2 linked regions of the Homo sapiens genome follow. The protein of the gene in region 2 interacts with the protein of the main gene of each other region in a pairwise test. Each region holds a gene or a part of one and is shown on either strand. Other genes may lie near its edges.

The links. Proteins that work in one complex are often made in the same cells at the same time.
Region 1: the proteins of NCK2 (region 2) and CIPC interact in binary tests that used the Homo sapiens proteins (3 or more experiments, as listed by UniProt).

The regions. Positions count from the first base shown.
Region 1 is NC_000014.9:77,111,758-77,115,257, reverse strand, and holds part of CIPC (CLOCK-interacting pacemaker), read right to left. Parts: intron 1,834-3,500; coding exon 940-1,833; 3' UTR 1-939.
Region 2 is NC_000002.12:105,891,342-105,894,772, reverse strand, and holds the end of NCK2 (cytoplasmic protein NCK2), read right to left. Parts: intron 1,792-3,431; coding exon 1,597-1,791; 3' UTR 501-1,596; downstream 1-500. UniProt on the Homo sapiens protein: Adapter protein which associates with tyrosine-phosphorylated growth factor receptors or their cellular substrates. Maintains low levels of EIF2S1 phosphorylation by promoting its dephosphorylation by PP1.

The DNA of each region.
Region 1 (3,500 bases), on a different chromosome or scaffold from region 2:
GGAAAAAAAAAAAAAACAAGATGGCAGCAGAGTTAACTTATACTACATCCCAGGAACCACTGAAACTATCCTTAAGATTTTTAGACATAAAACAGGTTACACTGTTTCAAAAGAAGAGAGAAAAAAAGCCTAAGTTACCAGAATCGTCCAGCTCCTGACCATGAGATATGCCGGCTATGTCTATTTTCTTCAGCTTCTAAGTCAAAAAAGCAATTCATCGACTACAATTCCAGATGTACTGCATTCATTCCATACCTTAAAATTTGGAAGTACTGTTTTTGCCTGCTAGTTTAAGAAAAATCTGACTTGTAATGAAAGTGTAGGAGTCAGATGGTACTACTCTTTCCCTTGATTTTCAAGTGTAAGAAAACAAAGCGTTGAGTGATTAAGTGCTCACACCCAGGTGCAACCTGTGCCCAGGGAATTTTAGGTCTCGCCCAACTAGTACGATGCCTTGTGGGATGCAAACAACCTCCTCTTATTTCTCTCTGTGACTAAGACAGGCAAGGGAAGATCCATGAAGGTTTCCTTGTGTCACCTACTCCCTGGCTCAACAGGTGTTGCTCTGTATGCTCATTCGTGTTACTGTACCCTTGATCCTGGTGAGAGAGTGGGATGATGGGAGGTGACAGCAGGAAGAGCCCCACACAATCATCTCCTGCTTTGCCCCATGATCCATTGAAGCACCTGCAGGCTAAGGAAAAGGGGCTCAAGGGCACTCCCAAACTGAGGTCCTCAGTGGGACGGGGACATATGTATCCTGTGCCCAGACTACGAGTTAAGACAGCAGCCAGGTATTGGCACGTGGCTTCCTAAGTGAACCACAACACAGTTTAAGTTTAGAAGGAAAAGCTCTTACATAAGCTTTGGGAAACAGGAGTAGGTAACAGCAAATGAGCTAAAAGAACCACTCAAGTAACAGGAAAATATGCCTCTGTGCTATATGGCTGGGTGATCAGAGAATGCTTCTAGGTCACTGCCTGTATTACTGGACCCAGGTGTTAAAGATGCCTGCAGCTTGGCCCAAGCCTGAGGGGCCCTGCTCTTGGTGGCTTCTATAAACAGCTGGGTTTGCTCCTTTAGCTGGTCTAGTTCTACCTGAGTTGCCTGATTCTGACGAATCAACTCCTTGGTTTTCAAAGTGATCTCCAGCAAACCAGATTTATGTAGGACTACTAGGGTATTCTGAAAGCGCCTATGTTTGCTCTGCCGCTGCTCTGAAAAGATATCTGGGCTGCGGCAGAGGTGCTCTGCAGCCCATAAAGGTGAGCTATAATTAGCGGACAGTGGTGAAAGGGGAGAGTTGCTCTCTAACCCATGGAGAGTGCTGTCTGATGCGCAGACAGGACTGGCGGGGGAAGCGAAGGTCAGACTGGGAGCTTTAGCCACGTGACTGCTGGATACCGGCTGAAGAGTCTGTGGACTTCCACCTGCCACCAGAGAGGGCACACCCTGCAGAGCTGAGTCCTCGGCAAGTTTGGCGCTGGGTGGTGCTGGCGTCGAGGGACTGGATGGGACAGCACCAGCCTTGGTTGGCTCACTGGAAGACAAGCTAGGCCCAAGTCTCTCAGTACAGATTTTCTTCTGCACTCCACTTGTTCCTTTTTCTTCTGGGCCAAGGGAAAGGCCCCTTTTGCCTGGATGTGGGGCTATTTTGGTGTAAGAATTCAGAATGGGCAAGTAGTTCCTGGAGTCGGACTTTTTCTCACCAGTGTGACATGGACTGACAGGAGATGGTACAGGTGGATGAAGGAATAAGAGCTGTGGCTGTGCTGAGATCACTTCAAAGGAGGGCTGGACAGTCCACGACTGGAGCTGGGATGAGCTGCTGCCCTGAAGACAAAGGAGGAGAGCAGCACACTACTCATTACTGCTGAAAGGATAGAGGAGTGAAGCTTCTGTCAAAGGGGCAAGTGGATACTCAAATGCTTAGAACAATTTCAAGGACAGTGCTTCTCTCACATAGTGGTTTGAACATCTATTTGTGTCTGATATCACAAATACTTTTTAAACTTTTTCTAAGGGAAAACTGGAGGAAATACCTATTTTTATTCAAGTGCTATCACTCAGAAAAATAAATGGGTAGGTAAAGTAATGACATAGCTAAGGTCACAACTGAAACAACAAAAATATGGATTTCCTGGTGTAAGTTAAAATGTGACTTTACACCAAAGTGTATCTTCATTTAGTCACACCTGGAACCTCTTTTACCTGAAAATAACTTTTGATTAAAAAGTAACATATTGGGCCAGGTGTGATGGCTCATGCCTGTAATCCCAGTATTTTGGGAGGCTGAGGGAGGTGGATCACCTGAGGTCAGGAGTTCGAGACCAGCCTGGCCAACGTGTGAAACCCCGTCTCTACTAAAAAATACAAAAAATTAGCTGGGCTTGGTGGTGTGCGCCTGTAGTCCCAGCTACTTGGGAGGCTGAGGCAGGAGAATCGCTTGAACCTGGGAGGTGGAGGTTGCAGTAAGCTGAGATTGCGCCACTGCACTCCAGCCTGAGTGACAGAGCAAGACTTGGTTTCAAAAACAACAACAACAACAAAAAAAAACAGAAAGAAAAGAAAAAAACCCATATTGTCAGGAGTCTATGGGTTCCTGTTTTTAAGGCAGTGACATCCAACAATCATAAAACCATTCAAAATAATAACAGCTACCATGTATTGGTGCTGATTATAGGTTACCACTATGTGTAATGTTTTACATGAGTTACTTAATCTATTTAAAACCCCATGAGGCAGTTACCATTTCCCTTCATAAACAGGGAACTGAGGCTTAGAAAGTCGAAAAAACTTGTTTTAAGTCATCAAGTTACTAAGTGATGCAGTTAGGATTCCATCCTCTGTCTGACTCTAAAACCCATCTGAGCCATTCTGCTATACTGCCTTTGTTTATTACTCCTCAATTATACATTATTTTTTAATTAAAGTATTGATTCAGACGAAATCTAATAAAGAAGGACATGGCTACTTGTCTCCAATGTTTGAAAGCCAATCCAGTTCCAACCTGGTCCCCAAAATCTGAGTATAGATAAAGCCAGGCAGAGGGCAAGCCTGACAGAGTTTCACATCATCAGTGGGGTCAGGTGGGGTCATTTGATTTATCTGAAGAACATTACGAACTGTCTTCCCATACATGTACATGCGCGCACCATTTTGCACACATTTCAGTTTCTTGGATGCAAGGTTAGGAACTTTAGGCCAGTTCATTTCCCATGCAAAGGCTGGAACGATCTAGAGTCCTCTTGATGTTCAAATATACTCCGGAATATACTAAGGCAAGCAATGCTAGGGCCAGAAACCATATTTCCTTGTCATAGGAGATCCAAAATCAAGAGGTCTTTTGAAGTAGAAATCAGCCTGTTCCAGCTCAGTCAGAAGCAAAACTTCATGCCCTCTCTAGGGATGACCTACAAGGCAAATGGATCTGGAAAATATCTAATGCATTGTTTTCCCATGATTTTACTGGACTGTACTTCCTAATGCTACTGTTATGC
Region 2 (3,431 bases):
ATGGGGATGATAGCAGGTCCCACCTCATGGGGCTGTGATGAGGAACAAATGGGGGCGCAGTGCATGGTGCAGAGGGAGCGCTTGATACGTGATTGGCCTAGGAGGGCACAAATGCCAAGTCATGTGACTCTGCACCCCCAGGGCCTGGCACATCAATATAAATGCTCCCGATCAAGAGGACAAATCGAGAGTTAGTCGTGGGGGACACATGGTGTGAGAGCGCTGGCTGCCAAGAGTTCAGCAACATATTTCTAAACAAATATTTTCCAAAGAGCAAAGTTCAGACCAAGCTTGAGATTCTGGGTTCCCTTGGGGTTTCACTAATTAAAACTCATTATTTCAATATACAAAAATGTGGGGGTAGAAAATGAAAACACACAAGTAATAAATGTTAAGCTCTTCTCTAAAAATGATTTCCACTCCGCAATGAGTGAATGCTTCAGTAATTACTCTCCCATGATTGAGTCTGAGTTTTCCCAAAGATAAATACACACAGAGCCTTGTCATAATACTTTTTTTTATTACAATATCCAAAAAACTGGGTATGCAAGTTTAGGGGATCTCAAGACCCCTTCTTCAATCGTAGGAATGTGCCATCTCAAGACGTTATATTTAAACTATAAAGAAGTTCAAATGTAAAGGAAAAAGAAAATGCAATTTCTTCATAAACATTCTGTGTGTCTCTTACTACCAATCACATACTCTTTTGTAAACCCTGAAAAATTTCCCTGTAAATAATATATATATATATAGTGTGTGTGTGTGTGTGTGTGCACGTGTGTGTGTGTATAAAGTGTTGGTAGCTCCCTTCCCCAAAGATCAGCTGTTTTCCTTAATCATCTGTATTAGTGTCAACAAACGGCTACAGATACATATTTCTTTGAGAATTAAATACATAATTGTGAGATTCAAACAAGCCGAAGGGCAAGAGGAAAAAGCACTATGTGGATGGCACATTTGGGGTAAATTACCAAAACATCTGTCTTTCTGAGTCACCGGTTCCCTCTTTTGCAGACTGCCTTTCCAGGAAATTCTTTATTGCAAGCACAGCCCCAAAGGCACTGGGCAGTCTCCTCACTGCCATCGCACCCGGTGGTTCCAGTATTGCTATCAGCAAACGTATCGGCTCCCTGCACAGTCCGGGAGCCATGTAAGGGCACAGGACATGGGCGAGGGCTGCTAGGACTGGGGCCATCGCACCTGCTCTGCCCAGCACGCTGAGTGCCCAGGACACGGGCGCTGCCGCTGGGTGGCCTTAGGCTCGCTCCTGCGCTCACAGGTGCCCTGCGTCTTTTTAAAGAGGGGTTCCATGAGCGGGAACGAGTTGAATGCACGAGCGCCACTTCCGATGGAAAAGGAATAATGTGAACTCGCCCTGCTCCTCCCCTCCTCTAAAGCTGGCCGGCCGGGTGGGCTCGAGTGTGGGTGTGAGGCCTGGATGGCAAATGGGAGACGAACCGACCAAGCGACCTGAACATAAAGAGAGACTCGCAGAGAAGCCGTCGGGGCCGTCCCCGCGGGAGGAGCCTCTGCCACAAGGCCGGGCGGGCAGCTCCACCGTGGGGCCCGGGAGGCGAGTGTGGGGCCGGGGCGCCGTCACTGCAGGGCCCTGACGAGGTAGAGCTTCTCCCCGTGCTCGCTGGTGAAGATGGGCGCCTTTTTGTAGTGTTCCACCAGCTCGTCCATGGTGTGGAAGCGCCGCTGCCCAATGCAGTAGACATTGTCCACGAGCTGCACCTTGAAGTGTTTGTTCTTCCCTGACGCTTTAAGGGACACGGAGAAGTCGCTGGGCTGGGGAGGAAACAGAACACAGTTACAGCCGGGCCACAGCGGGGAGCTGTGTCTAAATCCATCCACATCTCTTGTGCGTCTAAATCCAAACCACCCATTGCTCAAACACTGGGTCTCTGCTTTTTTTTTTTTTTTTGAGATGGAGTTTCACTCTTTTGCCCAGGCTGTAGTGTAGTGGCCCAATCTCGGCTCACTGCAACCTCCGCCTCACGGGTTCAAGCGATTCTCCTGTCTCGGCCTCCCGAGTACCTGGGATTACAGGAACCTGCCACCATGCCCGGCTAATATTTGTATTTTTAGTAGAGACAGGGTTTCGCCATGTTGGCCAGGCTGGTCTTGAACTTCTGACCTCAGGTGATCCCCACCCCCCTCCCAGCCTCAGCCTTCCAAATTGCTCGGATTACAGGCATGAGCCACCACGCCCAGCCGGGTCTCTGTTTTATATCTAGAACGGCATCTGATGTTCAGAAAGACCTGGAGGTAGTCCACGATTCTGAAATTCTGAACCAAAGAAAAAATAAATTCTGCTTAGCCCAGTTTCAGTGCTAAATGCGTTTTAGTTATTTGAAAAGTGCAAACTCATTATGGAATATACAGCACTTCACTATGGAATATACAGTGTTGCCCTGACTGCTCAAGAAATTTGCTGTTTTTCATTTCCCAAACTATTTTTTGATAAACTGGGAATTTATTAAGAGTGGTTTGCATGCAGGCAGTAGCTAGAAATTTTACTACTTCTGATGTCTAACCCTATTAGAAATTAAGACATCAAAATTTTTCTAATTCTTTTTTTTTTTGAGACGCAGTTTTGCTTTTGTTGCCCAGGCTAGAGTGCAATGGTGTGATCTTGGCTCACTGCAACCTGCGCCTCCCAGGTTCAAGCAGATTCTCCTGCCTCAGCCTCCCGATGTGCCACCATGCCTGGCTAATTTTTCTAATTCTAAGCATTTAAAAATATGAACAGCAGTGGAAAATTCCGGTCGCATTTTAAACATAGTTCACAATATCCCAGAGGAAGCTGAACTATGGTTTGATTACAGATTTTATTGAAAAATATTTAAATTCTGTGATGTGCCTTCTATTTCAGAATATTTTAGAAACATGTCATTATTTTAATTAAAATGTGTCTTTTATTGGCCAGGTGCAGTAGCTCACGCCTGTAATCTCAGCACTTTGGGAGGCCAAGGCAGGTGGATCACCTGTGGTCAGGACTTTGAGACCAGCCTGGCCAACATGGTGAAACCTCATCTCTGCTAAAAAATACAAAATTAGCCAGGCATGGTGGTAGTGTGCCTGTAATCCCAGCTACTTGGGAGGCTGAGGCAGGAGAATCGCTTGAACCTGGGAGGTGGAAGTTGTAAGCTGAGATCACGCCACTGCACTCTGGTCTGGGCAACAAGAGCGAAAAATCTCAAAAAAAAAAAAAAAAAAAAAAAAAAAAAAAAAAAATTGGTCTTTTATCTCATTTGCTGAAAAGCATGCAGGAAAGAAGATACTGAACGATAAATGTTCTTTGTACAAAAATATCAAGTTTTGATCAATTCATTAAATGAATAACAATTAGTTACTAACACATGCCAGGCAGGCGGTGCCCTGGATACATGTGTGTGCATGCAGGACATATGCTCTGTGACAATCTG